2 separate regions of the Homo sapiens genome follow, and region 1 is linked to region 2. The links come from fine-mapping of genetic effects on gene expression. A gene starts in region 2. The other region holds a variant in brackets. All regions are shown on one strand. Distances are between the middles of the regions.

Region 1 (16,596 bases), 710 kb after region 2:
TTTTCTTAGTCATAAATCACAGGTAGGTCATTTTTTCAACTGACAGATGTTGCTTATAAAGTTCTCATCAATATCCATTTTATGTTGGCTTACTAAACTCTGGTAGCTGATGTAAACCACTATGTATTGCCATAAGTGACCAGAACCTTGTGAAAGTCTGTGGTTGAATTGGTTTGTGGTTAGATTATTTTGAACTTCTATTAGCAATCAAAACTTATAGGGGAACAACAGGTCATCTTCCAGACCATGCCTTTGTGGAACTAAGTGGTACATAACAGACTTCAACTTTTTGAAACCTATTGACATTTACTTGACAAATTATAGTTCAAAGGATTCAGAAAATAAAATATTTCCAAATATGATGTATTTCTTTAAAAATCTGAAGTGAAAAGGGAGCACAACATGTGCATGTGCAACAGGCAAGGGTTCTACATTCATACATGGTCTGCAAGAACAGATTCATTTGTTCATTCATTCAAACAAATATTTGTTGCATGAATGCATTATTTGTTGGGCAGGGTGAAAAGTCCTGGGTGTATATCAGTGAACAAAACAAGACAGACTGGGTACTTGCTCTTGAAGTGCTCTTGAGATTTCTCCAGAGAGGAAAAAAGTAAATAAACAAACAAATTATTATAAATGATTAAAGATGTAAGAAAGAAAAAACAGAGGGCTGAGTGGAGAATAAAAGGGGTGGGATACAATTACTTTAGAAAGGATATGAAGGGAACACTTAACAAAATATGTGCAAATTAAGTTAAGCCCTGAAAAATGAGATGATATCATCCATGCAGAATTTGGGAAAAAACATTTTCAGAAGAGAGAAACAGCACATACAATGAATTGACAGGGCTTGATGTGCTCATGGCATCAAAAGGAATTCAGTGTGACTGGAGTGTGCCGAGAGAGAGATAGGCAGGGGCTAGATTATTCAAGACATTGAAGGTCATGATAAAGACTTCTGTTTTATTCTGATGGGAATTGCAAACTGTTAGAGATTTAAACAGGAGAGTGAAATCATTTAATTTATGTTTCATATTGCGCTGGCTACTATGAAGAGAATTGACTGGAGGAGGAAATTAGTGGATGCGGGGAAACAGGAAACTATTACAATAATCCAAATGAGAGCTAATGAGAGCCCGGCACTGGAGTGCAGAAGTGAGATGGGGAGAAGACATTTTTGAGGTAAAATCAAAAGGACTTGGTGGTAACTTAGATATGAGTGATGAGGGCAAGAGAGGAATCAAGGATAATTCTGGCTTGGTGGATGGTGGCACCATTCACTGAGTTGATGGAAAGGGCGCCCAGTTTTTTTCTTTTCTAGTACAAGTTCTGTGGTATAGTGAGGTCTTGGCACATCTGAGGCCCTAAGAGGTTATTTACTGTTCTTGCTAGTAAACTTCCTATGGAGAGAGCTTTCTTGATCCTTTTGCACTGTTAGTCAAGGAAACACAGGAGTGAGCCAACACAGTCCAAAGGAAGCCTCAGAGCTGCCTGAATTCCTAACACTAGGTTCACCAGCCCTAGCTAGTATGTGGAGTGCTAGAAAACAAGGCAAACAGTAGCTTAGTTATGCTCAAGAGCTTTGAAAAATAATAATAATGACATTAAATCACATTTTTCCAGGAGATTAGGCCTTGGGTGCCAAGCATTGAGCATGAGTTGAAGTTTTTGGTAGACTGAGTAGAATATAAGCACACACATACACTGTCCTATGGTATCAAGTTCTTCAAAAAAGCCCAAATCAAGGATAAACAGTTGCCCATTAGGCAACAGAAATTGACTCCCTTGGGAAAGGACACTAAGAGATTAACTTAAGGTCCACCCCTTGGCAGATGGACTTCTCCATTAAAATTACTTGTCAAAGATTCTTCCAGTCAGTTAAGCTCAAAGTCATTAGCTTAATGACAACAGTTCAGAAACATCTTCACCTCTGCAGAGCAGGAGTACCACTCAAAGGTCATCATCTTAAGAGGCATTGTGAGGCTGAGTTCTAAGAGATTAAAATACCTTTGTGGGCAGATAATGCTTAAGTCATATTTCACAGGATTTCAGACATCTCTCTTATTATCTATGTAGATCTTAATGGGAACTCAGCCAGCATGGCCATTGGCCATATGTTCTTCCTTCACCAATTTATACCATCAGTATTTTCACGCCATGAAAATTCTGGTTATAAGAACATTAAAGGAAACCCTAAAAGGATAAAGACATTGGAAAAGAATAACTTAGTATCTGAAGGAGGACTGAAAAGGGATGAAAGAATTCATTGCATTACTGGCATTCATCCAAATGCCAGCTCCCCTCTTACTCATTAATAGAATATGACATCAAGGCAAGAATTCTAGGAGAAATGGGAAAAGCTTCAAAAAGAGACATCTAAAAGAGATATGAGGCTGGGCGCAGTGGCTCATGCCTGTAATCCCCACACTTTGGGAGGCCAGGGCAGGTGGATCACTTGAAGTCAGGAGTTGGAGACCAGCCTAGACAACATGGTGCAACCCCGCCTCTACTAAAAAACAAAAATTAGCTGGGTGTGGTGGTAGGCACCTGTAATCCCAGCTACTCAGGAGGCTGAGGCAGGAGAATCGCCTGAACCTGGGAGGCAGAGTTTGCAGTGAGCCGGGATCACACCACTGCACTCCAGCCTGGGCAACAGAATCAGACACCATCTCAAAACAAAACAAAACAAAACAAAAAAACTACACAAATTAGCTGGGTGTGGTGGTGGGCACCTGTAATCCCAGCTAATAGAGAGGCTGAGGCAGGAGAATCACTTGAACCCAGGAGGCAGAGGTTGCGGCAAGCCAAGATCACACCTCTGCACTCCAGCCTGGGAGAAAGAGCGAGATTCTGACTCAAAAATAAATAAATAAATAAATAAATAAATAAATAAAAGGGAAATGAGGCTTTGCATCCCTTGATGGAACAAATGTATTTTAAGGTATTAACTGTAAGATAATGCTACAAAGCACTCAAAACAACCAGAGTGAAGAAGCAGAACTCAAAGTTAAAAACTAGAATGCAGAGACTTAGGAGGATGAATTTATTTTTCTTATTAAAACCAGTGATCTGTAAACAAATCATCTATTTCCTAAAGATTAATAAAATCAACATTAATCACAATCAAACATTGATTCTGAGTACACTTAATGTATTTAATGTTGATCAGAAACTGGAAAAAAAGTTATTCAATTTTATGGATTTGGATTAGGATCATTCCCAGTTCTGTAAATATTTACACCTATAAGGATATCAGGAAGGAATGTCAGGCAGTTTACTAATAACTTTTCAAAGTCTTAGAAAAGTTGCATTTTTTGCTGGCACCAAGAGGAGAAAACATCATAAAAATAGTTTCAAAATCTACAATCAATCCTTTCTCCAAAATAAATGTCTTTGTTAAAAAAAAAATAGCAGATTTCTGAATTCTGTTTTTCCCTTGGGCTAGTGATCATCCCAGCTCCTGCTCTTTGCTCTGCCCTCACTTCCTCTCATGCTCTGCTGGCCATGAAGGAGCTGTGAAAATCCAGACTCTACCAATAAGACAACTTCAAATTACACAAACACACAGATGAGGCCAGGTGAACTTGCCTTCACTCCTTACTTTTTTCTTGCAGATAGGAACTTTCCCTTTCTGCCATGCTTTTTCTACCTGGAGGCCAAGGGATTCCATCTTTTTCAATAATACTAAGTAAGCCACCAAACTATGTCATAATGTGGCTTGATCATGATAGGCTTTTTCTGGGTCACAGTGTGCTCTTGCCATCTTCAAGAGCCAAGTCAAAGAGTCAAGTCTTTTTTGCAGGAAAGTTTCATATATATATATATATATATGTATATATATATGAACATATATACATATATGTTCATATATGTGTGTGTATATATATATGAAAAAAAAAAATATATATATATATATATATATATATATATATTTTTTTTTTTTTTTTTGAGAGGGAGTCTCGCTCTGTCACCCAGTCACCCAGTCACCCAGGCTGGAGTATAGTGGTGCGATCTCGGCTCACTGCAATCTGCACCTCCCAGGTTCAAGCAGTTCTGCCTCAGCCTCCTGACTGGCTGGGACTACAGGCATGCACCACCATAGCCAACTCTTTTTTTTTTTTTTTGGATTTTTTTGGTAGAGCTGGGACTTCACCATGTTGGCCAGGCTATGCTTGAACTCCTGACCTCAAGTGATCTGCTCCCCCAGGCCTCCCAAAGTGCTGGGATTACAGGCATGAGCCACTGTGCCTGGCCTGTTTCCAATATTATCTGTAAGTATTTTATGTTTTCATTAGTGCTATTTTATTCTTTATAAAAATCAATTGCATACATGTTAGATATTCCTATCTGTCATTTTTATCTGTCACTGTTTCTTTTTCTTTTATTTTTTTAATTTTTTATTGTGGCAATATATACAAAACATAAAAGTGACTCTCTTAACCATTTTAAGTATATGATTCAGTAGTATTAAATACATACATTAATAATGTGCAACCGTCACCACAATCCATTTCCATAACTCTTTTTCATCTTATAAAACTAAAACTCTATACACATTAAACAATAACTCTTCATGCTCCCTGACCTCAGTTGCTTCAATCACCATTCTCCTTTCTGTCTCTGTGATTTTTACTATTCTTAAGTACCTCATATAAATTGAATTATGTAATATACGTTCTTTCATATCTGGCTCCATCTAGCACAGTATCCTCAAGATTCATCCATATTACTGCATGTGATATGGTTTGTCCCTGACCCCACCCAAATCTTATCTTGAATAATTGTAGCTCCCACAATTTCCACGTGTTGAGGGAGGGACCTGGTGGGAGGTAATTGAATCATGGGGTGGTGGGTCTTTCCCATGCTGTTCTGATTATAGTGAATGAGTCTCATGAGATCTGATGGTTTATAAAGGGGAGTTCCCCTACACAAGCTCTCCTGCCTGCTTCCATGTAAGATGTGACTTTGCTCCTCATGAGGCCTCCCCAGCCACGTGGAACTGTGAATCAATTAAATCTCTTTCCTTTATCAATTACCCATGTCTTTATTAGCAGCATGAGAATGGACTAATACAGTAAATTGGTACCAGGTAGTGGGGCACTGCTGTAAAGACACCCCAAAATTTGGAAGCAACTTTGGAACTGGGTAACAGGCAGAGGTTGGAACAGTTTGGAGGGCTCAGAAGAAGAGAGGAAAATGTAGGAACATTTGGAACTTCCTAGAGACTTGGAGATCTCAGAAGACAGGAAGATGTGGGAAAGTTTGGAACTTCCTAGAGACTTGTTGAATGACTTTGACCAAAATGCTGATAGTCATATGGAAAATAAGGTCCAGGCTGAGGTGGTCTCAGATAGAGATGAGGAACTTGTTGGGAACCAGAGTAAAGGTCACTCTTGCTATACAAAGAGATTGGTGGCATTTTGCCCCTGCCCTAGATATCTGTGGAACTTTGAGGGAGATGATATGGGTTATCTGGTAGAAAAAATTTCTAAGTGGCAAAGCATTCAAGAGGTGAAAGACCATAAAAGCTTGGAAAATTTGCAGCCTGGCAATGCAGTAGAAAAGAAAACCCCAGTATCTGGGGAGAAAATCAAGCCAGCTGCATAAATTTGCATAAGTAACCAAAGAGCCAAATGCTAATCACCAAGACAATAGGGAAAATGTCTCCAGGGCATGTCAGAGACCTTCACTGCAGCCCCTCCCAGCACAGGCCCAGAGGCTTAGGAGGAAAAAATGGTTTTGTGGGCTGAACCCAGGGCCCCCCTGTTTATGCAGCCTCCAAACATAGTGCCCTACATCCCAGCTGTTTCATCTCCAGCCATGGCTAAAAGGGACCAACATACAGCTCAGCCCATTGCTTCAGAGGGTTCAAGCCCCAAGCCTTGGTGGCTTACACATGGTGTTGGTCCTGTGGGTGCACAGAAGTCAAAAATGGAGGTTTGGGAACCTCCACCTAGATTTCAGAGGATGTATGGAAATACCTGGAAGTCCAGGCAGAAGTTTGCTGCAGGGGCGAGGCCTTCATGAAGAACCTCTGCTAAGGCAGTGTGGAAGGGAAATGTGGGGTTGGATTCCCCACACAGAGTCTCCACTGGGGCACAGCCTAGTGGAGCTGTGAGAAGAGGGCCACCGTCCTCCAGACCCCAGAATGGTAGATCCATTGACAGTTTGCACCATGCACTTGGAAAAGCCTCAGGCACCCAACACCAGCCCATGAAAGTAGCCAGGAGAGGAGCTGTACCCTGCAAAGCTACAGGGGAGATGCTGCCCAAGACAGTGGGACCCCACCTCTTGAATCAGTGTGACCTGGATCTGAGACCTGGAGTCAAAGAAGATCATTTCGAAGCTTTAAGATTTGACTGCCCCACTGAATTTTGGACGTGCATGGGGCCGGTACCCCCTTCATTTTGGCCGTTCTCTCCCATTTGGTACGGCTGTATTTACACAATGCCTGTACTCCCGTTGTATCTAGGAAGCAACTTGCTTTTCATTTTACAGGCTCATAGGTGGAAGGAACTTGCCTTGTCTCAGATCAGACTTTGGGCTATGGACTTCTGAGTTAATGCTGAAATGAATTAAGACTTTGGGGGACTGTTGGAAAGGCATAATTGATTTTGAAATGCAAGGACATGAGATTTGGGAGGGGCCAGGGCAGAATGATATGATTTGTCTGTGTCCCCACCCCAATCTCATCTTGAATTGTAGCTCCCATAATTCCCATGTGTTGTGGGAGGGACCTGGTGGGAGGCAATTGAATCATGGGGGCGGGTCTATCCCATGCTGTTCTTGTGATAGTGAATAAGTCTCATTAGATCTGATGGTTTTATAAAGGAGAGTTCCCTGATTCAAGCTGTTTTGCCTGCTGCCACGTAAGACTTGACTTTGCTTCTCATTTACCTTCCACCATGATTGTGAGGCCTCCCCAGCCATGTGGAACTCTGAGTCAATTAAACCTCTTTCCTTTATAAATTACCCAGTCTTGGGTATGTCTTTATTAGCAGTGTGAGAATGGACTAATACAGCATGTGTCAGAATTTCCTTCCATTTTAATGCTGAATAATAATATTCCATGATATATCATATTTTTCTTCTCTATTCATCCATAAATAGACACAGGTTGCTTCCCTGTTTTAGCTATTGTGACCCATGCTGATATAAATATGGGTGTACAAATATCTCTTCAAGACCCTACTTTCAATTATTTTGGGTATCATGATGATTTTATTTTTAATTTTTTTTAGGAACTGTCATGCTGTTTTCCATAGTAGCTGTACTATTTTATATTTCCATTAATGGAGCAGAAGAATTATAATTTTTCCACAATCTCACCAAGTTCATTTTCTGCTTTTAGCACATAGCACCATCATAATGGATGTCAGGTAGTAACTCATTGTGATTTTTACTTGCATTTCCCTAATGCTTAGTGATGCTCAGCATATTTTTATGTGCTGATTGGCCATTTTTATATATTCTTTAGAAAAATGTCTATTCAAGTCCTTTGCCTGTGTTTGAACCTGCTTGTTTTTTGTTGCTGTTGTTGTTGTTGTTGTTGTTGAGTTTAGGAGTTCCCTATATATTCCAGATTCCAGATGTTAATGCCTTATCAGATATATGATTTGCAAATATTTTCTCCTGTTCTGTGGGTTCCTTTTTTTTTTTTTTTTTTTTTTGACACGGAGTCTCACTCTGTCACCCAGGCTGAAGTGCAATGGCACAACCTCAGCTCACTGCAACCTCTGCCTCCCAGGTTCAAGTGATTCTCCTGTCTCAGCTTCCTGAGTAGCTGGGACTACAGGCACATGCCACCACACCCGACTAATATTTTATATTTTTAGTAGAGACAGGGTTTCACCATATTGGTCAGGCTGGTCTCAAACTCCTGACCTCAGGTGATCCATCCGCCTCAGCCTCCCAAAATGCTGGGATTACAGGAGTGAGCCACTGCACCCAGCCTATGGGTTGCTTTTTTTACCTCATCAATAGTGTCTTTTGATGCACAAAATTTTTTAAATTTTCATGAATTCTAATTTGTCTATTTTTTCTTTTGTTATCTGTGCCTTTGGTGTTACATTCAAGAAATCATTGCCAAATGCAGTGTTGTGAAGATTTTGCCCTATGTTTTCTTCTAAGAGTTTTACCAAGGACACTCACTTTCACAACTCCAGTACTATTCAACACAGTACTGGAAATCCTAGCCAGAGGAGTTAGACAAGAAAAAGAAATAAAAGGCATCAAAATTGGAAAGGAAGAATTAACATTATCTCTGTTTGTAGATGATATGATCTTATATGTAGATAAACCCTAAAAATTCCACAAAAAATATACAGAACTAGTAAGTGAACTCAGCAAAGTAGCAGGATACAAAGTTAATGCACAACAATCATTTGCATTTATATACACCAACAATGAATAATCTGGAAAGGAAATTACAAAAACAATCCAATTTACAATAACATCAAAAAGAATAAAATACTTAAGAATTGACTTAACCAAGGAGGTAAACGATTTGTACAATGACAACTACAAAACAATGCTGAAAAAAATTTAAAAAGACGTAAATAAATGGAAACACATCCCATGTTCGTGGATCGGAAGTCTTAAAATTGTTAAGATATCGATACTACCTAAAATGATCTATATATTTAATGCAATCTCTATCAAAATAGCAATGAACTTCTTTGCAGAAATAGCAAAACTCATCCCAAATTTCATATGGAATCTCAAGGGACTGTAAATATTTAAAACAATCTTAAAAAAGGAGAACAAAGCCAGAGGACTCACACTTCTTGATTTCAAAACTTACTACAAAGCTGTAGTAATGAAAACAGTGTGGTGATGGCATGAAGACTGACATATAGACCAATGAGATAGAATAGAAAGCCCAGAAATAAACCCTCATATATATGGTCAAATGATTTTTGACATGGTGCCAGGAACCATTCAATAGGGAAAGGACAGGTTTTTCAACAAATGGTGCTGGATAAATTGGATATCACATGCAAAAGAATGAAGTTGTATCTTTACCTAACACCATATACAAACATTACTTCAGAATGGATCAAAGACCATAAACAATAAAACTCCTTATTCATTTTTATTTCTTCTTTTTTATTTTATTTTGGGTGATTTTCTAACCGCTGTATCCCTGATCTTGTGTTCAATTGTGTTTGTTCTTTTTTTGTTGTTTGATGAGACTTTTATCTTTGCACTGATTTTATATTTCCCCATTTCTTTCATTTCTTTACAGAGCAAAGATACATAGCTGTTGAGCCTGTGATCATTCTTTTTAATATTTTCTGGCCAATGTCAATTTAAAGCATGTACACATTAATTATTTCAGTAAGGCTAAGCTATTCTGGCTGCCATGTTTTTCTGAGATAGAAGAATTTTTTTACCTTCTTTTTTCAGTACTTAAAACCAACTGATTCCTAAATCACCTATTCTTCCCTGCTAGGATCCAAATAAAACCGAAGGCCGTCTTGATGAATATGAAAGCTAAATGAAAGTTAAATTTGTCACATTCTTTACCATGCTGCACACTTTCAGAGTTTCATAAATTTTTTTAAAATCCACATAATTAGTTTAGCTTTACCAGAAAAAAAAATTTGAATGACAAGGTCAGGCTCCTGACCTTTCAATAAATTAGAGAAGATTGCCATAAATTGCACAATATAATGAAACACCAATTTGCATATTTGCTGCTATATTAAAAGGGATCGGTTTTAGCTCGCAAAGCAGAACAAACAAAAACATGCATTTTAATAACTCAAATTACTCCCAGGAAGTGACCCTCAGCAGAAAGCCTGATTATCACTACTTAATTAGAAGCCTTGGAAATCTAAATCCTCCTTTAAATCCTATTCTGGGTACAGTGAAAGATGAAGCCATGAGTTTTGTCTAAGATTCAATATTTACTCTTTACTAATATGTTTGCTGGAGAGACTTCCCAAGCATTACAAAGACATGCGAGAAAAAATTTAATATTCAAAGAAAGAGTGCACAAAACCTGTGTTGGCTTGCAGGTGCAAAGCAATTAACAAGCTGGCATTTACAGTACTTTTAATTAATTAATTAAAAATGCAAAGCTGACTTTCATTTCTTTAAATGTTTGAACATTTTATCCATCAATAATAAAGCACTACATGCTGCTGGGCGACAACATCTGGCAAATGAAAAAAGTGAGTCCAGTGTTGAAGT[T/A]AACAAGGAAGAATTTGGAATTTGCTATTGCATCACCATCTCTTCTCCCACCCCCTCACTCCCACTAGTACATGACCACACTCAGTGTCAAATGATAGGGGAAATGGTTTGTTGCCAACCCTGGATCATAAACTAAAAGTGACAATATTTGATGTGACAAGTTAACCTTGAATGGGAATGAAAACAACAAGGCTTATCGCAATTACACTCACCATTAAGGACTTGCCGTTCTGTTTCCTTAGGGGAGCAGAGTTGTTTGGAATTAAGGCTGTGTATCTCCATCTTGTTTATAAAGGTTAAAAACCTAATTAGCAAAGGGAATTTCAATAATTTGAAAAAGAAGTGGGTAGTGGCTTCTAATGTAATGCTGCTGTGACTAATTTTACAGCTGGACCCTGCTTGAACAACGACTTTACTATTCCCCGTGAACACATTTCTGGTCAGTACATATTTAAAAAACAACGCCATTAATGTACTTTAATTAAAACATAAATACTACAGTGCTACCTCGGTAGGCATTCACTCAGCTGGAACTAACTATATTTGCTTAATCTACAATTTTAGATGTATTAGCAAAAATAAATGTTGGTGAATGTAAGAGCCTGATTACATATCTTGGGTAAATTGGTGATAATGAGTCAAGAGACTTTGTGTTCATTCACATATATTAGAATAAGAATCATTATGAAATTAAAGCTAAGATTAATCCTGCTAATGACACCACAGAGCATCTGGGAATAAGATAACCCAGATGTCAGAATCACTGTGCTACAGTGCTGCTATTTGATAGAGTAACCCTTGAAGTGTTCTTCTAAGGCAGATAGCTGCTCCCCCCCAGTCCCAGCACTTGAAATGCAAATGAGTGACAAGATAGTCTAATAATGAGAGCAGATTCTAGCAGTAAAGAAAATGAATAAATTAAAAAAAAAACACTCTGCACCACTGATAAGAACAAGCAGCAGGCACCCTGATGTCCTCAATTAGGGTGGATGACATCTGCTGAGCATTTCTCTCTAATAAAGCCCTCACTCGGTATTCCAAAGCACACGATTCTAACACTGTTAACATTTTAATGTCCTGGGCGTGCATGGTAACATTAATTACAAGATGATTTGGATGACTTCTGAATCTCTTTTATGTCTTCAGCAGAAGAGAACACAGCATAGCAGCTTTGATATCATAAATAAAATGGGGACGCCTGCCAAGCATGAAAGGTATCCTGAAGTCATTCGCATCTGCTATGTTATCCTGAACCTCTGTAGCCAGGCAAAGAGAATCCTCTGGGCATTTACAGACGGTCAGCAGCTATGCATTTTAGTGGGGAGCTATGTGGCTCTCAAGGATTTTTTTCCCCTTATGCTAGAGGTGAAAATTTTGTTGCTGTTTTTAATTCCTAATGAGCTTAAAGTCCAATTAATATTATTCTAAGCACAGTTTGCCTTCCTAATAGCTATTTTCATGAGCTTTGGCAAATGTCACCAGGGCTTTCTTGTTTGTTGGCTGGGAGACAGGGACAGTATCTCCCCTTATTAAGCAGACTGATACAAAGTGTAGGCACTATGGGGGACCCTAGGTGGAGAGCGGGCAGAGAGACACAAAAGAAATTTTGAGGGTCCCTTACTACAAAACTGGCATATCACCATCATCCATGAGAAAATACTAGTAACTTCTCTTACACAGGTAAGGAAACTGGGGCACAGAGAGATTACACAACTTGCTTGCAAGTTACTAAACATCCAGGGAGAAGCAGAACCAGGATTTGAACTTCTGACTAAGCTCAAAATCCATGATTTCACTATTCCTCTCCACTACACCTGTGGCCGTCATTAGAGCTGTTCACAGGTGATCTGGGGCCCATCCTTTGGGTCATATAAGGTTATGTTTCCTTGCCCTTCTTTCAAGCTAACATAGCCATGTGAACTACTTTAACCAATGGAATGCAAACAGAAGCCTTAAAAGAAAGTGTGTGGTTCACCCTGTCCTCTATGAGGAAAAAATCCGCCTGGATCTGAGGATGACTTGGAGCAATGCACAGCCCTAATAATGGGCATGAAGACTAAGCAAGAAATAAACCTTTGTTACATAAGCCTCTGAGATGCTGAGGCAGTTGGTTACTGCAGTGCATGCAACCTAGTCTACCCTGACAAATACAATACTATGCCATGCCAGCAACCAAGTACAAACATGTAAAAACCTCAGCTGGCCTCAGGAATGGATGAAAAACAGAAAAAATAAAAGTGAGGAAATACGTGACTGAAAAGTTGGCCCGAGAACTCTTAGACTCTGAGAAAGAGAAGATTGTGGTTTAATTAACCCTAGTGGGCACCATTTACATCATAAAATGTGTCAATGGCTCCCCCTAGAGTTTTCCAGTGCCCAGATTGCAAGATTATATGCAGTGGCCCTGTCACTTCTAGCTCTGCTAGTCTGAGAATCTGGCTCGCCATTTATTTTACAGATTACGCCAGATTTACAGGATGTACTGGGTATGGAATTCACAGCTGCAGCCAATGAGCACGTGCCCAGCCCAACAATGAGCTTACTCACTCAAAACATCAGGAAAATTCATCAGTAGATTTATAAGGGCACTTGGCCATGAATCAAAATTAATTCCAGATATGACAGATTACTGTTGTTAAATCCAGGTGAAATGATGTTACGCAGTCATAAACAAAGATGTTTTATCCAAATGTGCAGAGAAAAAGACAAAAGACCTTTTTGGCTTTTCATAATTGACTGGATGTGGCACTGATTTGCTGCACCTAGGGAAGGGATATTTGGGAGAAAAGAGAAAATGAGACACAGCAATGAGGCAGTGCACTAATTTTTAAGAGTCCAGCCCTTTTTCTCTCTTCTCTCTCTTGCCTACCTCTGTTTGGACTATTCCAGTGGAAAATTCTAATTCTACATGCCAACTCTCCCTGCTCAAACGGTCTATATTTTGCCAAAGTTACAGCTGAACAGCAGGTTCAAAGATCCCAGCCACTGCCACTGATCAGAAGCTCCCCAGGATATCCCCCAAGGCTGCAGAGCTATTGAACTGGATAGAGCACCTGGGGAACTGAAGCAATTAACAGAACTTCCTTAAACAGGGCCAGAATGGGTCTCAAGTAGACAAACCACACACAGCTGCAGCATCCCCTGCCACTGCCCACTGGCTGGGTTTGCTCAGGAAACATTAGAGAAGATTCTCAACAAGCAAGTCAGCCCCTCCATTTGTCAGCCCAAGCCCTATCTGTTCACTTCTGCTAATAAGAATGCTAGTTAGTAAGAATGGGAACATCTAAGAAAGTTCTAATCTTGATTAGGAGTAGGTGACTCCTCCAAAAAAAAAAAAAAAAAAAGGGAAGCAAAGCAGTTCAGTGCTTCCAAAGACATAAGGGTAAGCCACACTTAGATCCATAGTCATACTCCAGTTGCAGCAACCCCCAGGGGAAGGGCTTACATCACAACGTTTATGCACTGGAAAATGAGGTAACCTGAAGCTTTCTCTCTACATCACCTGAGGTTTCATTCTACGATGCCTTTGCATGGGCTGTTTCCTTCACTGGGAATGCCTTCCACAGGTAAACTCAGTGAACACCTACTCATCTACCAAGATTAAATCAAGTGTCTGTATGAATCCTTCTCAGACCCACCCAGTCAGAGGTGTGCACGGCCCCTTTTGCTCTTTGCCTCTCTCTTATCACTGAACTCATCCTACTGTGTGATAACCACACACCTGCCTCCTCAGACTGCAAGTGCCCTGGAGACAGAGATGGTGTTGATTTCCCCAGCCCCTGCCAGGGTACTGACACACAAGAGGTACTAAGGACCTCCTTACTGAAAGAGTAACTTTAATATTGATAGTGGAAGGCAGATTCAAGATGCTGTGCCATCTTGGAAGATAAATAATGCTCTATAACTTTTTCTCAGGTGCTTCAGGACTGTTTCAACTACCTCTTCTGAAAAACACTTAATACGTTTTCTCTCCCCTTCCTAAGGCTTCTGCATTGCCTTTACACATTCTAAGGTCCTTTTTTAGTTTCTTAATAAGGTGTCCTTAGATAAGCCTCATCTAGTTAGCATTATTTTGTGCCTGGCTGTGACAGGATAACTGAAAAATCAATGAAAACAAAGGCAGAATGGCCTGAGTTTTCATGACTGAGTGGGCTCCTAGGTGTCTTTTACACAGAATAATTTATGGAAACATCCTTTAAATACAGACATTTCCATCTGTTTCACCTTCACTCTTGCAGGGAAATGAAATAGGAAGATATTCAGTCTGTTTACAACCTAATATTGTTAACCTCTTCTTCTCAGTATTTGGAATTTGGTCATACATCTTTGAAGACTGCCTTAGAGCCAATCGATCAAAGACCATCAATGTATTGTACATCAACTTGGTGCCAGGCACTGTGCTAGGGATTTCAAAGGCTCAATGAACTTAGTCTGGTGGACAAGAAGACATATAAGCATTTTTAAAATAAATGCTAACTAGAGATACAATCACCTTAAGAGTGGATGGATATGGGGGACAGATGAGATAACACTTGCACTTAGCTATAAGGGAAGATGGAGGAAGAAAGCCCAGGCAGATGATAATGAAATAAGAAAGGCAAGAGAACAAAAAGGGACTCAGTGATTTGACATGCCTGGAACAGTGACACCAGGGGATGTGGTGGCAAAGAAGGCATGAAGTTAGTGGGTGCCACATCAGGGGAGTTGTGAGTGTCTTGCTGAAGAGTTTGACTTTACTGATAATGGGAAGCACCTAGAGTTTAGGAAAAGAGGGTGACATAATTCAAAATTCCTGGATTCTGAAGGAATATTTTTAAAGGATATAGGGAGAAGGGGACAATCTGAGCAATCATTTGGAATATTTTGCAGAAACCCTAAATAAATCATTGAGGTATTGTTTTTTTCTTTAAAAAACAGTAAAAACAAACTGATTGCCTTAGATAATTATTTCACTCAACAGAAAATATAAGCACTGCATTGGATCAAAAATGGCTGGAAAACTGAATTTTAAAAGAGAATTTTGGGCAGGCGCAGTGGCTCACCCCTGAAATCCCAGCACTTTGGGAGGCCGAGGCAGGTGGATCACGAGGTCAGTTCAAGACCAGCCTGGCCAACATGGTGAAAGCCCATCTCTACTAAAGACACAAAAAATTAGCCAGGCGTGGTGGTACATGCCTGTAATCCCAGCTATTCAGGAGGCTATGAAAGGAGAATCACTTGAACCCAGGAAGCAGGGGTTGCAGTGAGCCGAGATTGTGCCATTGCACTCCAGCCTGGGCAATAGGGCAAGACTCTGTCTCAAAAAAAAGATTTTTAGCCACTTAGCTTGAAAACTGGACTTCCTTTTTAGAACATGCTCAACACCGATGGCAGATGGGGCCCCACAGTCAAGCAAGAGAGTGAGGCAAGAAGTAAACAAACAATCAGACTGCAGTATGCATACCATCATAGAGAGCTGTACATGACAAGGCAGCAGAGAAAAGGAAGAGTGGACAACTATTCAGGAAATAAGGAGGCCAGATAGTTTTGCAAAGGCAATCTGAGATGGGTTGTAAAGCCTAATTTAAGAGTTCATCAGCCAAAGTGAAAAGAAAACTATTATGAATTTTTTTAAAAAGCCTACAACTATGGCAATAAGTGTATGGTTCAGACAGACAAAGACCGTCCTCCCTGATATCAATCAAAAGGTTTATGACTAATCACAGACATCAATATTTCCTTTAAATAGTTTTCATGAACCTACCAACCATGAATTTATCTATACCTCTTTAAGAAGTTATCTCTATTATCGCTCCCTGGACTTGGAAACTCAATGCTTAACATTAACTTTTGATGTTACTGCAACTTGCTTCATCTCCATTTGAAGGAGGGTGTCTACTAGTCCTGCTTTTCCAAGATTTTTTGATGAGTTCATGTCACTTCTATTGGAACTCCTCATCCTTCAATTCAAAGAATCTTAAGTTTTTTGTCTATCTTTATATTTGAGTTCTCATCCCAGCTAGGATCATTTGGAGGCTCACTCCATCCACCTCAAACATCTAGAAACTTATTTTAATGAAATATGAACTCCTCTCCATACATTGCTCCCATAACTCTGCCATTTCACCCCAGTCCCTACATATTATTCCTTGTTATAATGCCTGACAACGTATCAGGCATTTTAATCTACATGTTAGCTCCTCCATGTTCCTGAAATGATGTAACATGTACAGATTTCAAACCAAGAGTTCTACAGAATAAGGGCCCCAAAGAATCCTAATAAATGTGGCATCACAAATCTGTGCTTTTAATTATTTGGCCTGTTCCTCTTGTGCCCAAAATTATTTCCTGATATTTCTATAGCTATTCTTGGCAAGCAGTCCATACGGGTACCTCTTATTTAACCACAGTTGGTAC
Region 2 (16,596 bases):
AAAATATGGAAAAAACCTGGGTCCTCGATTATGTTGCTGAGATACTGCATCAATCAATCCTAGAACCACAAGATCTCTGACCTGCTTTGTGAAGTAACACAAAGCATTCCTCTTTTACCTGCAGCTGAAAGCATTCCAAAAGATACAAGAGGAAGATGTTAAATGTGGAGGTGAAACTGGGTCCAGAGTTATTAATCTTCTATTAATAAATACTGTAATTTTATGATTAGTTATTGCAAGGAATGTGTTTAATACATTTAAATCTTTAGTGCAAGTTACAAAGCACAGCAAAACACATACTCTGAGTTAAAATTTTGACTTTACACATCAAATTAAAACCCAAAGAAACAAAATTGTTTTCTCTTCCAAGTGGCATCATTACTGTGGAACTGCTGCTGGGAACAGACCTGACATTGCATAGGGCAGAAGATAGGAATTGTGTTATCAGAAAAGAGTATCTTGAAGTTAAAAGTATGGTGACTAATATCGCATCTTTCAGCATTTCAATCAAATCACAGATTTGGGTTTAAAAATTAAAATTTTTTAATAATTTAATAATTTGTAAAGATAGAATACAGACCAAAAACCTAAAAGAAGCTCCAAATGACTAGACCTTAGGCCAGTGCTGTTACACCTATCACATCTAATGCTGTGCCTTAATCATGAATATTTCTATTTGTTGACAGTCATATGGGATTGCCTTAATATTAATAAGAGGCACAATAGGTATTTAGATTAGTGCACCCATTCTTTGGCTTCTACAGAAAAGTAATTTTTAAGGTATTGGACCAGTGTATGATTTTTGCCAACTTTTAATCTTGCCTTGCCAAGTAAAGCTATTAATTTATTATAATCATTATTTATAAAAGAAAATGTTTAACATCTCAAAAGACTATAATCTTGGAATTTTTTTTTTTTTTTTGAGACAGAGTTTTGCTCTTGTCACCCAAGCTGGAGTACAGTGGCACGATTTTGGCTCACTGCAACCTCCGCCTCCCGGATTCAAGTGATTCTCCGGCCTCAGCCTCCTGAGTAGCTGGGATTACAGGCACATGCCACCACGGCCGGCTAATTTTTGTATTTTTAGTAGAGACAGGGTTTCACCATGTTGGCCAGGCTGGTTTTCAACTTATGACCTCAGGTGACCTGCCCGCCTCGGCCTCCCAAAGTGCTGGGATTACAGGCATGAGCCACCGTGCTCAGCCAATCTCGGACTTTTAAAAAGATTAAATTTTGCTTTATAAAATCCTGTTAACTTCCCTTTGTTCATTTATTTATATTTACCACAGACAGGTGAACTCCTTCATGGACTGGCATGAGCCTGCACATGGAAAACCCTGATTGCAAATATTTTCTCCCAAATCTATTATACACTGGAAAATGTTACCTTCATCTTTCTATACTTAAAAATAGCCTTTTTGCTCCTTTATTCAATGATTATTTATATATTTGTGACATGCAAGGCCTGATGAAAACCACTGTAGAGAATTCCAAAACATATAAGACCTCACTCCTGACCTTTGACCTGTTGATGCCTTGGCTGGGCCATAAGACACATCACACAGCATCAGGCAAATTTTGTGTTCTCTGCATCAAGCCTTTTTTATTTATTAAAGTCCAAATACCAATTTTTTTTGCCTAGCCTAATTTTCTTTCAGGTCTCAACCTCAACCTTGTGTGTCTTTACTAATAGGTAGCCAGCCAAACAATTGGCAAAGCTGGTTTTGATAGTGCTAGAAAACCAGAGGTGTAGTGTTGTAAGGGGCGATGCTAATCAAAGGCCAGAGAAGGACCATGACAGGAGAGTGTGAAGATGGCAGCATCCTGTGAACAGGAGTCCAGCCACACATAGATTCATCTCCTCTGGGGCCTGTTCTTTCTGGACCCTTACTGAGATTTCTAGCCCTCTTTGAGCAAATAAAATGGATGGGGAAGCACCCCTGTTATTTCTGTGTTCTCTGATTTGTCTAGCCTTCAGAACTGTGTTCTAAGAATGTCTGAATTTGATCAGGACCATAAGATGATTATGTCCTCACTACAAGTGGATTGTGAACTAAATGTATCAGTTTGGCAGCCAAGATCAATAGCCTTGCCTTTTTTTTTTTTTTTTTTTAATCAAGTTCCCTTTGGCAGAGGCCATTAAGGGAAATCCTATCTATCAGAATTCAGCATAGAGTACAGAATTTTCTAGACCTGTCCACTGGGCAAAATTAGCTCCAACCCATTGCTAATTTGGCTCAAGAAAAAAATGCTGTTGTTTCTAAAAAACACACTAAGCAATGTTTGAGGATTTTTAAATGATCAAGTAAGGAGAAAATTGTTTAAAAAACAAAACTAAATAGCTATTTCCTGCAACACATGTTTAAGGCATCTCTACATTATTTTCAAGCCTTTCTTTCTACTACCAATAAATCAACACAGGCAAGCCAAAGCAGCCTCATAGTTCTATCACAATTTCATACATCAAGGCTCTTGGAGAGCCTATATATTTTGGTTTCCTCCCAGCTTCTTCTTTTTTTTTTCCTGTGAGCTTGTTTTATAATAAACATTTTAAACATTTTCCTCTCAAAGTGCTTCTCCACAAATATCTTTCCTAAATTGTACGTTATGTCTCAGTTCTGCTAATTGATAATCCTAATTTCCACTTCATTTAACATGCAAGCCTCGGCGTTGAAACCCTGATGGACTAATCGGGGTCATTTAAAGCCCATCTAAGAAATGGGCTTCTTCTTACATATGCTCAGTGAGATTTTGGAACACTATTGTCAGGAAATACAAGCAATCCCTGAAACTTTTTCCCCCTGGGTTATCAGAGTCCGAGACAATTGATGACATTACATCGGTCGTTCATTTTAGATTCGTGGAGCCCACAAAAATCAATAGTTTTCCATTATCAGGTCCAGCTGGGTCACTAGTCTGTCAATGAGCTGTTACAATTGCTGTACAGGGGTGAGCCTGACCAGTCAATTGCTGCTGACAAGAGGAAAACATGCTGACAGCCACGGGAACAAGTCAGAACACAGATTTGCACTTCAGTTTGCCATCCAAAGAGGCTCAGAGCAAGGCCATTTTCAAGACACAGGGCATACTCCCTGGGAGGTGGGGGTGGGGGGTAGTGGCGGGTGTGGAGGGAGGACTACCACCCCCGGGTTTTGTAGCACAAGTGCCTAAGGGCCTGTCCTGGCTCCAGCCAACCATCTCTTATAGAGATAGCTGTAGTCACTGCCTTTGTTAGTAAGAGAGCATATACCAGCCAGAATTGTCCCTAAACACACCACATTGTACCACAGCAAGATTAGGAGGAAGGAACCCAAATTTTACTATCACTGGCCCAGATGAAACTATATAAAACTTGAGAAATATAAAAGCTTAAAGAGGAAGAAAATGGGCCAGAGGCATCAAATCTAAACAAATATGGCTAAACATGTTGCAAGTAAGTATTGACTGAGGACAGGAGGTCCTCTGGTGTTGGTACATAGGCTGTCCCCTTGTTGTCTCATTGTTTATAACATTATCTATACTTCGATCTCAACATGACATATTTAACCAAACTAAGCCTCCCTGATTGGTGACTGATCCACAGCTAACTGTCTGATGCAGTGGGCAGCAAGGGGAACGGAGTCTAGTCTTACCCTGCCTACAACCAAGAAGTAAGAGTATGGAGTGGTGAGCTCGGGCAAGTATATTAACTGCCCCATATTAACATGGAGACATGCTTGCCTTACATGTGTTACAAGGTGATCATGAGATTAAAAATGAGATCAATTGGCAGGGCGTGGTGGCTCACACCTGTAATCCCAGCACTTTGTGGGGCCCAGGCAGGCAGATCACCTGAGGTCAGGAGGTTGAGACCAGCTTGGCCAACATGGTGAAACGGGGTCTCTACAAAAAATATAAAAAATTAGCCGGGTGTGGCGGTGGGCACCTGTAATCCCAGCTACTTGGGAGGCTGAGGCAGGAGAATCACCTGAATCCAGGAGGTGGAGGTTGCAGTGAGCCGAGATCACACCACTGCACTCCAGCCTGGGCAACTAGAGCAAAACTCCATCTAAAAAAATAAAAGAAAAAGAGATCAATTGAGATGAGAGTAAGCTCTGTCCAAGTAAGGGACTGTGCGAGTGTGCATGAGTGTGTATTTGTGTGTCTCTTACTCTGTGGAAGCTATCCATACAGCAAGAAGTTGGGAAGCAATTGAAAGAAGTTCTGCTCCAGAATAATTCATTTTTGGTCTAGACTAAATGTTGTCCTTCCTTAGCTGAATATATGAATAATCTCTAAAGACCATCATGAGTGAAAGCCAGAACTTAGAGGACAGCTCAGGAGTCTTAATGGGTTTTGTGGCTCTCCTTACTCCATAGAGAAGGTGGTTTAGATGCTGGCAAGGTGGACACACACCATCTGGAGCTTGCAAAGCATCATGAATTTGTGCAATGCTCTGGTCTTCTCACCCTGGTTCAATTTCAGACATCAAACTTAAGAGCTCAAAAGATAAATATTTTGAATTTATTTCAATATTATGATTTGTAATGTTCGACTTTTATTAACATCTTTCAAGTATTAAATTGTAGTATTTTTTCCCCTCAATGCCTCCAGTCTTGGGTTTGAATCTTTTGGAAGTCAACATTCACTTGTGTTCCATCATCAAAGCTGGTAATCAACTGTATTACTGGAAGCTAACTAGGGCTTTTTTTTTTTAATGCTACCCCCAAAAATTATTTTATTTAAATGAGTAAAAAAAGTAGTTTTTACAAGAACAAATTTGCTAGTAATTAGATGAACCAGTCTTACGTCTTCCAGCACTTGGAAACGTGAAATTCACCAGAACTCTCACAGCATTAATTAAAATGAATTTATGTTTTTTTAAAAAAATGCTTCATGTTTTAGCTCCTTCATTCTTCCACCAAATGTGATTATGTGGGGGCTGAAGGGAATTCAGGTTAATATGTTGACACACTTAACAATGCAGGGTCATGTTGCACAATACGCTTCACTGGTTTGGTTCAGTACACCCCCTGACAGGGCCTAATCATCCCCTGCCCTAAAGGCAGAGGGAAAGAGAGGATTTTAATTACTGCTCTGTATGCAAGTTTGCCAGCATTAAATTGAGACATAATTAGGCCTCTGAATTTTAATAATTGTCCTAGCTAATTGGGCAGACAAGTACGTTATACAGCATGCCGTGATTAGATAATTAGTATTTCCAAATGACAAAATTGGGCTCTTGATTACAAATTCTACATGAAGGAGGAAAAAGGTAGCAAGCAAATCTTTACAAGTCTATTAAGAGAGAGTTTAGCGATGTTGGTAATTTAAAGTCCATTAGGAAGCAACATTTCACTCTCAGAGCTGGATGTCTGAGACAAGGGCCTCCGGCCTCCTCTGGCTCCTCCTCACGGTGCTCTGTTTTCCCTGGGGTCTGCTGCATCCACCTTCCCCCATCAACCCCAAGGTTAGCAGCCATCATTGACCTTGGGTGAGGTCTGTTTTGCTAGATGGCAGGTGTAACTCTGAAAAAGAAATCACGAAGGGTAGGAAGGATAGAACAAAGAAGAGGTAATCTACCAAGGTGGGGAGGGGCTGTGTAAGTACCCAATGTGGCTTTCTATTGCAAACAGCTGTTCTTTCAATCGTCTCCCAGAATTTACCACTCTCATTGTATCATCAGCTCCACTAAAATCTTTTTGGTGGAAAAAAATCTTAAATCAAAATCTCAAATTTCTGAAGTATTATATTATTGGGATGAAGAGTGTGGGTATTGGAGACTGACTTGGATTTGAAGTCATCACTTACTAGGAGGGTGGTCTTGCATAAATTACTTAATCTTTCCAGGTCTCAGTTTTCTCTTTGGCAAAATAAAGAACCTTCTCCAATAAGATTGTTGAAATAATTAAATAAGATAATACACATACAGATGGTCCCCAACTTAGAATGGTTTGACTTAGCATTTCTCTACTTTACAACTTTACGATGGTACAAAAGTTCCTTCATTTATGATGGGGTTATGTTCAAATAAACCCATCATAAATTGAAAATATTGTAAGTCAAAAATGTACTTTCAACTTAACATATTTTTAAACTACAATAGGTTTATCAGGACAATCCCATCATAAATTGAGGTGCATCTGTAGTTTAAAGCTCAGTGCCTGGCATGGAGTAAATGTTCAATAAATATTAGCTGTTAAATGCAAATTAAATCAATAATATTGGAAGGCACAAGGTGAAGGTGCTGGGTCTGGCTCTTTGCTATGCCAGTCCTCAGATGAAGCAAGGTTCCCTATCCCCATTGCTTTCTGACAGAGGAATGTGGTACTTCATTTATGCTGTGAGGATGGGGGTGAAAGCCCAATGGCAACAGCTGCCTCCACAGCTCAAATACCCAACGAGATTTCCTTTCTCCCCATTCTTCAAGGGTTGGCATTGCAGATAAGCCCTCCCATGCAAAAGTCATGGGGGCACTTAACCTAAGAAGAATGTGGTATAAATTCTGCATCTTACCTTCACACCTTGTGATTCACTCTGCATGAATGTCACTTTATTACTACAAAGGCATAATTCTAGCTGCTAAATTTTTTTCACAATCAATAACCAGTAGTCTAGGCTCTAAAGCTATGTTTTTCAGGCAAAAGGAATATCACTTGGATGCAAACTAGAACCCTTCTAAAAAATGATTGATAGGTGGTTCATGGATGACTATCTGATGAAAGTTTGTAAGGGGAAAAACTCAGAAGTTCCAGATGTATATTCCTGACCACTGAGAAGGAAAATAACAATGTCTCCATGGCCTGGTCCAGTCAAAATAGCTACCAGGCTGAATCAGTATTTTTTTTTTTTTTTTTTTTTTTGAGACAGAGTCTCACTCTGTCACCCAGGCTGGAGTGCAGTGCAGTGGCATGATCTCAGCTCACTGCAACCTCCATCTCCCCCGCTCAAGAGATTCTCCTGCCCCAGCCTCCCGAATATCTGGGATCACAGGCATGCACCACCATGCCCGGCTACTCTTTTATATTTTTAGTAGAGACGGGGTTTCACCATGTTGACCAGGCTGGTCTTGAACTCCTGACCTCAAGTGATCCGCCCGCCTTGGCCTCCCAAAGTGCTGGGATTACAGGCGTGAGCCACGGCGCCTGGCCTAAATCGCCCTTTCTTATTACTTTCTTAGAACTTTGGGCTATCTCATTTATGAATGATGGAAGAGTTCTGCTGAGGATTTCAATTCAGAAAGCAGGGTTCTCTCTGTGGGTAAACTTCATATCACCCAGACATAATTTCTACCGAACATCATCAATTAAATAACAAGAGAGGAGGTCAACACCTTGAGACCTGAGGAAGAAGAAAAAATACTTATCATTAAGTGTAGGATGCAAACATTCTATTAGAAGCTTAGAAGCAAAGAGTAAGATATTATTTTCGTGGATACAAGAGAAGACAGAGAAAGACAGAGGGAGCGGCCCTTACGACTGATTTGTGTTTACACAATAAGGAAATCTCTCCTCTGGGGTCTCTCCGTAGTTCACAGGGACCCTGCTTCCAGGGGCACGCGTGGCGAAGAGAGTCCGTCCAGAGCTCCAGCCCTCACTGCACTTCCCAGGTGCCAAGACAAAACATCACTGGGTGGGGAGAGAACTGTCATGAGGATTATTCCCCCGCCACACAATGCTGAGCTTCTCTCCCTCTCTTTTTGAAGAAGTGCGTTTATGACTGATCGCTCAACACCTTGTTGGTTCTGATTGCAGAAAACACACCTTATAAATATATGATAACCATCCTGTAATAGAGAGTGTGACAATTTACTTCACAGTGCGTTTCGGGCTGCTAATTGATCGTTTCAGTCCAGGGACGATTTGGAATAAATTATAGCCATCAAAAGGATATCACAGCTCATTTTGGTGGAAGGGTTTCCACGTCGCTTCGCGTTCGTCTCCCGGAGAGAGCAGATTGCACCCGGCGGGCGTTGAGGAGCGGAGGGAGGGGGCAGGGGAAAAGGAGGCCAGCGGGGCGGGGATGGGCCGAAGGGCGGGGCCGGGGGGCGGGGCAGCGTCTCCCGCGGCGGCTGCAGGTCCGCCGCCGGACGGTAGAGGCCTCCCTTCCGAGGAGGCGGTGCTGGGGCGGGCGCAGGACTGCAGGCTGGGGCTCCGCTCCCCGGCGGGAGCCCGCGCGTGGTTCCCAGCGAAGTCCCCGCGCGGCTGGGCCCAGCGTGAGTATTCTCCGCCCGCTGTCCTCCCCCTGGAGGCGGCAGCGCCCGTTTATTTGAGGTGAGAGTCTCCCTCGGGCAGAGGGCCCTGCTTGGGGCGGGGGTGCTTGCGTGCGCGGGGTCTCACCTCCTGCCCGAGGCTTCCCCTCAGTGGGGCTGCTCCGCAGGGCAGACGCGGTGACCCAGGGCGCTGCGTTCTGCGCTCCTGGAGCTGGAGGTAGCGAGGCGTGGAGGCGCCGTGGCCCCGTTGGGGGCTTTGTGTGCACTTGGGGCTCGTGACTCGGATAGCTCTGGTTCCCACGTTGCAGTTGGGGAGGAGGCTAGTGGAGAGACCCAGTCTGGAGGGAGCTGTGCCCACCGCAAACCCCAGGAGAGGGCGTGGAGAGGGCCGGCCCGCCGGGACGGCGCAGCCAGGCGATGCCGGGGTCGCCCGGGGGTCGCTAGGGCAGCGGGTGACGCGCTGTGGAGCGCGGCGAGAACGACGGCCTCTGACCCCGGAGCGCTCGCCAAGGCCACGCCGAGGTGGCTGGACCCTGCCCCTCCCCGCTGCCGGCCTGGGCCCCAGCCTGCCTCAGAGACTTCGATTTCAGTTTCCAGCAAAAGTGTGTGCCATTGTGTGGTGGTCGTGGAGGAGGGAGACCCACGCGCCTGTCTATCGCTGGATGGGATTGGAATTTGAAGAAAAAATGTCCCTACTCCTGTTGCGGGTTCTTGCCTATCTGGCCGCCTCCAGTCCCGCCCACGAGACCTCCAGCTTTCATTTTCTTCCTGAACTAAAGCCCGAGGACTGAGGCCCTTCACGCGTAGCGTAGCCCCCACCCCCGGTGCCCAAAGCCGGCCATCGCACGGCGGTTCTTAGCTTTTTAGTCTCTGTCACGCTAATACATGCTGTTAGTCCAGGTCAGGGATGGTTCCATGCAGGCGATTTTGACAGCAGTCATCATACCAAGCTATTAGGAAGCGTGATGTCAGTGCGTTCTGGAAGGACAGATAATTTATAAACCAGTTCTTGACATGGTATCTTACAAGGAAACATCTGAAGCCATCAGTAAAAGAGGCATTTTAATTCACACACTAAAAATATTTTGTGTTTAGTTAACATCGTGCAAATGTTGAAAGAGGTAGTAGCATTTATCATTTTGTAGGTATTTATCAAGGTACTCAAAAAAGTCCCTATAGGAAGGAGGAGGTTTTTGTCTTATTTCCATTCTGACATAAACTGAGGAACAGAGATGTTATGTAACCAAATAGTCCAAGTAAGTTAGTGAGAGAGCTCTATTTATGTGACCAAACATTTTCTAAAACTGGAATAATAGGAAAAATCAAGTCCAAATTTAAGCAGATGCTTTAGGCTTAATATTATATGATAGCCAGAAGTTGTATTTACATGGACCAAATACTTTGGGAGGCTAATCTGTGGGAATTAATTTTATAGTGAACTCCATATGGGGCCCAAGATACAGTTTTCTTTTCCTCCATCCATCCATTCAATAAGTATTTATTCATTATCTATTATAGGTCCTCCACTTCCCTTTGCCATTGAACATGATCCCTATGGACCTTTAATAAGTAATTGTTGAAATGTAACTAAAATATGTATATTTTCTCCTTGCTCCAAGAAACTCAAGGAACATTATTATGAAAGAGTTAAAAACTGTGGCCTTTCTTTGATACAAATGGAAAATTGTGTTGATTACCTTTAAGTAGAAAGTCAAGGGAAAAAAATAAATTAGGAATCAGAAAGTTTTCTCCAGATTGTGCCGTATTCACAGTACCACACAGTACCATGTTTTTTTTTTTTTCTCCTTTAAAACTCATTAAGCAAAGTTTAAAGGGCATACATGATTGAAGGGGATATTCTTTTAATTACTTTAGAAAGCAAAATAATCCTTAAAAGGTCTTGCTCCTTATTTGGTATACTGGACGGGCTGGTTTCATTTGAGTTGAAAGCACTATATTTCTAGTTAAAATCAAGACCACATACAGTACCTTTTTTCCCCCCAATCTTAAGTCAGAATTGTCTACAATTAAGTAAACAAAATGCATCCCAAGTAGTCATACATACACCTGGTTAAAATTAATTGGTTTAATAAAAATATAAAAACATACTCAATATGTTTATCTCAGTTATAGTTTTCATCTTTCTTGGATAATGCTTGAAATCATTCAAAACAATATCTAGATCCTAAATATTAAAACATTTTGTGTGAAATCTGCAAGATGCACCTAAAGGATGTACCATTTTTTGAAGTACAATATGTTAGGAATAATTTTGTCCCTAACTCTCAGCTGGAGGGCTGAAACGGTATAACCAAGGTCTAACTAATGTCTGCATGTTAACAACTACACCAGAACTTACACAAACATTTTAGTGTGTTCTCATCTATCAAGTCATCTTGGAAGGCTGTCACTTATTGTGTAGGTGCTTCCATTGCTGCCATTGCTCAAAACGTTTCTGGAGCTCTTTGTTGGGCACTGCTTTCAGAACCCACAGCACATCTGGTTTAAGAGCCTTGGAGGTGGCAAGCCATCTTCCTTTAGCATCCTTCAGTGCTCTGAAGAATAAGGTGGGTGGTCAAGTCAGGATAATATAATTTGGGGTCAAAACAAGCTGAAAGAAAATTAGATGACTTCCCTCAATGACTTTTTAACTAGTTATAAAGTCATCATACTAACATATGGCAGCACCACTGGAATAAGAGTAGCTGCTAAAGGACAGCCTTAAGAAAAGTGCTACACATTCTCTTTGATTGTCAATGAATTACTAACTTAACAATCATATACATGTATAGTGCATTGGTATGCATGATAAAGACATTACTTCAAAAAGTTATATTGTCAAGAGTTTGGTTGGTTGATTCTAAATTTTTTGAGTGCACAATTTTGGTATGATTTAAAAAGCTAAGTTCTAGAATATGGAATTGGGTGGGAAACATTCAAGATGTCGTGGCTAAAATTAGGGTTGCCCTATATAATTCCACAGGATTGGCATTCCACATTCCTTGAAATATTAAAGAATCATACTCATTTAAGAAATCAAACATAACTTGTATTCTATTTGGTGAGCAAGGCTTTGACTATTACAAAAAACTTCCCCTTCTCCTAGCCTATGGGTGAGGCCTAACCTGTGAGGTCAAACACTTGTCATTTTTAGTAGTTGATCATAAATACAGACTGAAAAGCATATGTGTAGTGGAACCACCATATTGTTTTAAGTGAATAATATTCAACCTGCTTTACAAAATACAGAATCATGAAACTCCTAGCCCAGTGAACTAAGCTCTTATTATAATATTCAAGGCCAGAATGTGGGAGATGGTATGGAAAGTCATCCAAGGAAAAGAGTGGGATGGGGGAGAAAGAGGTTAGTCATGGGGCTTTTTAATTATAATTAGTTGTATTCATCTGAGGGAACAACTTACCATTGCTTTCCAAAAACCAGCAATTTAAAATTTGAGGAAATAATTCAAATTCAACTCCAGCTGAGACTATACAGAAAACCAAGAAAAGCAGAAAGAATGTAATTAGCTGAGTAGGAATTTTCCTAACAGTTCAAGTCTAATACCTTTAGTATTATATAGAGGGCCAAGGGATCATTAGTGATTAGCAAGAATCCAGACCATACTGATCAGGAGAGATCAAGGCCAATGGACAAAGATGAAAGAGCTTTCCTGCTTAAACCCAATGTTGCAAATGCTGATGCTCTTACATAGGGAAGGTCAGCCAGCAGACAAAGAAATAGGGCAGTCGTCCCAAAGCAACAAGTAGAGTCATTCCTCTCTTTCACTCCAGAGTTAGATTGCATATGGAGATTAACCAAGATTGAGCTGAGACAAAAAGAATATCATTCTTTCAGCCAGGTATAAGGTCTGGAACTGAGTCCTGTTTCTGCTTTGATGAACTTGGGTATTGTCCAGACATTGGGGAAGGGAAAACCTGCTGGGCCCTGGATACCAAGATTACACACCTAATTAAAAAGGTCAGTGAACAAGGTGGACAGACCCAATTCTAGATCTTTTCTGGGGAAAGACACCGGACTGCTTGTCCATTAGGTAGACAGAATGACTCTTAAAATGTATGTTAGATGCCAGGAGTGGTGGTTCATGCCTGTAATCCCAGCACTCTGGGAGGCCGAGGCAGGTGGATCACCTAAAGTCGGGAGTTTGAGACCAGCCTGGCCAACATGGTAAAACCCCGTCTCTACTAAAAGTACAAAAATTAGCTGGGCATGGTGACACACGTCTGTGATCTCAGCTACTCGGGAGGCTGAGGCAGGAGAATCACTTGCACCCAGGATGTGGAGGTTGCAGTGAGCCCAGATCGTCCCACTGCACTTCACCCTGGGTGACAGAGTGAGACTCCACCTAAAAAAAAGAAAAAAATAAAATTAGGGGTACAAGGGAGTATCAGTTATCTGAAGGGAGTATCAGTTATCTGGCAAACTATCCATAAATAGTACTTGTGGAAAAACAAGTAACAGTGATTTTAGCCTTCCTTTTTAAATGGGGAGCCTAACCATCATGACTACCCATCTTGTTGTTGTTGTTGTTGTTGTTGTTGTTTTGAGATAGGGTCTCACTCTGTCACCCAGGCGGGAAGTGCTGCAGTGGCATGATCTCAGCTCACTGCAACCTCCGCCTCCCAGACTCAAGTCATCCTCCTACCTTGGCTCCCCAGGTAGCTGGGACCTCAGCTGTGTGCCACCACGCCTGGCTAATTTTTTGTATTTTTGGTAGAGACAGGGTTTTGCCATGTTGCCCAGGCTGATCTTGAACTCCTGAGCTCAAGTGATACTCCCGTCTCAGCCTCCCAAAGTGCTGGGATCACAGGCATGAACCACCGCACCCAGCCATGACTGCTCAGCTTCTATAGATTTAAGAGTTCGTGCAAATATTTTAAAATTTGAGTCTAAATATTAAATTTTGTGTATAGTGTTTGTAGCTTCAGGAGTGGGGAGAGGGTAGTTCTCAGTATGGTCCAGGTAGTTGTAATAGAAGCCTGGTGAGTATAATTTGAAGTCCATCTCTTTTAAAGAGAGAGGTTCCTGTCTTTAGATTCCAAAATTCACATGTGGATCCAGAGTACAGAAAAGGTAGAGGACTGCCATGAGAATTGAGAAGTGGTAGAAAGAGTCCTGGACTGGGAGTGGGAACTAGGTTTATCATGTCCCAATTATGTTTCTTGAGGCAAATTTTAGTTTTCCTCATAGGCAAAATGTATATAATTGTAATATCTACTAGTCTACTTTGCAGGGTAGTTTGTGCCTTATCTGAGATGAAGTAAATGAAACACTTGCTGTGCATGCGCAGGATTTTGTGTGCTACAATGCAGGTTTTATAGGTGAAGGTAATGCTTATAGCCCTGGAGTTGTCCAAATATATGAACCAAAATATAAAGAAAGCTAGAAACCCACCTGTGGGAACTTGGGAGAATAGAATAGTTTTAGCGTGGATACCAGAGACAAATGGATAGTATAGTCATTACTCCTTTTTCAGATTCATAGGAAGTACCCTGTTGCCATTGCAAGAGATTTTGTTTTTACACTTCCTGAAGACCTGTTGTGTATAAAGTAACCTTAAGATAGCCCCCTTTATACTATCAAGCTCAATTCTGCAGCAGTGGCACTGAAAGGACAAACTTTCTTTGTGGAGAAAATTGACCAGACTCCTAGGCCTTGATTATTGTACTCCCAATGGTCCTTCTTTTCTTAGAGATTTCATTAATCCCCATTGCCATGTTCATACCTTAAAGGAGAAGAAGAAGCTGACTTGAGTTCTACAGATTGGCTTAATCGGTCAGCTATGAACATTTTCTAAAAACAGTTGTTATTCTTCCCACAGCAGCAATTCATTTCTTTTGCAGACACAGCAGGACCCCACCTCTCTGGACCCTGCAGACCATTAAAAGAAATTAACAGTTTAATTTTCTCCTTCTTTCCTCTGTGTATTTAAAAGGTACAGAGGATTAAGGGGGAAGGGCAGTTTGCCTCTCTACCTCACAGAAACCCCTGTACAGATATAGACAGCATCATTGGCTCCCACCAACATGAGGCATGGCTCCTAGAGAGGAGGGGGAAGTGGATGTGGGTGTCCTCAGGTGGGTATATACTCATCCTTTCTTCTGTTGAGTTGCCGGATTTCACCTCATGAAGAGTAAAAACAATGCCCCTTCTCTGAAGTCATGTTAGAGGGATGTTTTCTGGAGGCTTGTTGAGTATCCTCCATACAGGAATGCTTCATAAGTTCACATTGTGTGAGGGACCATGTATGTGAGCCAGGACAATACAGTCACAAAGGAAAAGGGGCATTTGATTCAGGCAGTATGTGTTTGAACATCAGATCTGCTCACCAGCTTAGTGGCTTGGGCAAATTTCTTCATCTCTCTGAGTCTCAGTTTCTTTATCTGCGAAATGGCAGTAATAACAGTGCTCACTTCTAAGGATTAGTGTGCATGAGGTGAGTGTATGACAAACGGGAGTTGTAATATTAGGCTCTGGGGAGTCAGGGAGGAATATAAATAAATATAAGGCAAATTCCCATCTTCAAGGAGCTTTCAGTTTGGTTGGAAGGGACTGAATAAAAATAAAGCTGACAATACAAGGCAGAAAATGGGAGCACCAAATGAGTGCTGCAGATGACAAATTCAGCAGTCTGCCAAGGACTAGGATGATGGTTGAAAGGTTTCAAGACAGAGGTGGGAGTTTCTCTCCGGATTTGCAGACTGGACAGGAGTCAGATATATGGAGTGAAATTGAGAAATCATCCAGATGACAAGAGGAAGGAGGAATCAGAACACACAGCACATGCATAGCAGGGGGGAGAGTATGCTGGAGTGGAAAGTATACCAGCTTTTGAGCCAGATGTAAGAATCCTAGTGCTGCTGTGAGACCTTAGTTGGACAAGTACCTTAACTTCTTTAGCCTTCTACAGCCTTAAAATGGGTATAATTATACCCATCTCTTAAATGGAAGGGATTAAATAAGATAATATTTGTAATGCCTAACATGGTGCCTGGCATCTTCAGTAAAATAAAGACAATTCACATGATGTTTTCAGCGGACAAAGAGAGAGCTGTCTGCCTGAAGAGCTGTCTGGCCTTGTGTAGGCTAGTAGTGGAAAACAAACCAGGAACAGCTAATTAATGCCTATGGGGAGGGTAGGAAGGAGGCTTGAAAGCCAATTTAAGAAGCTGGGGCTGGCCGGGAGCGGTGGCTCACGCCTGTAATCCTAGCACTTTGGGAGGCTGAGATGGGCAGATCACCTGAGGTCAGGAGTTCAAGACCAGCCTCAACATGGAGAAACCTCAACATGGAGAAAATACAAAATTAGCCGGGTGTGGTGGTGCATGCCTGTAATCCCAGCTACTCGGGAGGCTGAGGCAGGAGAATTGCTTGAACCTGGGAGGTGGAGGTTGTGGTGAGCCGAGATTGTGCCATTGCACTCCAGTCTGGAAAACAAGAGGGAAACTCCGTCTCAGAAAAAAAAAAAAAAAAAAAAAAAAAGAAGCTGGGGCTGTTATAGGCAATCAGAACTACCAAGGCAAAGTAGGGGTTTAGGATAGTTAATCTTAAGGCACTCTGAAAGCTGTATTTGAGGAAGGAAGAAACTCACTCCTTTATGTGTAAAGTGATCAGGGTCTAGATGAGGATGGTGGAAGGGTTAGTAGACCTGGCCAATGTCTTTTTAAAGTTATTTTCATAAAAGCAATTTAGGGCTCAGCAGTGTGGAGTAGGGGGGAGCTTTTTTGTTTGTTTTGTTTGTAGATTCCTAATATTTAGTATTGATTGTCTACAATAAAACTAGGATAGACCCACAACTTTGGAAAAGAGAGATCACTCAGCATTCAGGGACAGTACAAGGTGAGAAGTAATTCTGATGCTAAATAAGCCCTATAATTTGCTTCAACTTATAAAATAGCCCCTTTTAAAAGCCCCTTCCCCCTTCCTATTATTAATACAGATCAAGTGTGTTCCAACCACTGGTTTTCAGGAAGACATAAGTACAGATCATTTATCGTTGTATGGAGTTTGCAGTTAGGATTGTAACACCAAGAGGGGTTGGGGCAAAGGGCGAGGATGCTGCCAGCAAAATAGTAATGTTGATGATTTTATTTATTTGATAATAGTGAAATTCTGTTCTCTCCTGGGGTTTAGAAGTGATTTAATTAAAAAACAAACCTAGGAAATAGTTTTGGATACTAGGAATTAATTTATAATGTCTCACATTTTCTACCTTTCTCTTTTTTTTCTGTCTTTAGTAGTTTTGTAATGGGAGAATACATGGTAGATAATTCTGTTTCTAAGGAAAATCACACTGATTATGTATATGAACACTGGTTTTTAAAACGTTAGGAAATCCTAACTGTGGTAAGCCTTAAACATATTAAATAGGAACTGATAACCAACC

Direction of the effects. Positions count from the first base shown, and alleles are read on the strand shown. Sizes are in standard deviations (SD) of each study's normalised expression.
For the expression in tibial nerve of the gene that starts at base 8,097 in region 2, T is the low allele of the variant in region 1 and A is the other (small effect, 0.14 SD a copy in GTEx).

What was found.
Region 1: its variant is fine-mapped to the expression of LINC02609 in tibial nerve (GTEx, PIP above 0.99).

The regions. Positions count from the first base shown.
Region 1 is chr1:90,129,179-90,145,774 of GRCh38, reverse strand. No RefSeq gene overlaps it. Among named protein-coding and RNA genes, the nearest start is that of ZNF326, 140 kb to the right of the region's middle. RefSeq lists an enhancer at 13,008-13,509. The variant T/A (reference allele first, on the strand shown) is at 10,201.
Region 2 is chr1:90,843,139-90,859,734 of GRCh38, reverse strand. It overlaps LINC02609 (long intergenic non-protein coding RNA 2609), which reads left to right and starts at 8,097. Exons shown (of 3, transcript NR_135038.1): 1 at 8,097-8,252. LINC02788 (long intergenic non-protein coding RNA 2788) reads right to left here. Exons shown (of 4, transcript NR_186594.1): 2 at 13,936-14,081; 3 at 11,614-11,679; 4 at 10,263-10,746. LINC01763 (long intergenic non-protein coding RNA 1763) reads right to left here and starts at 7,976. Exons shown (of 2, transcript NR_146610.1): 1 at 7,456-7,976; 2 at 4,836-5,507. RefSeq lists silencers at 7,959-8,358, 8,649-8,768 and an enhancer at 8,552-9,052.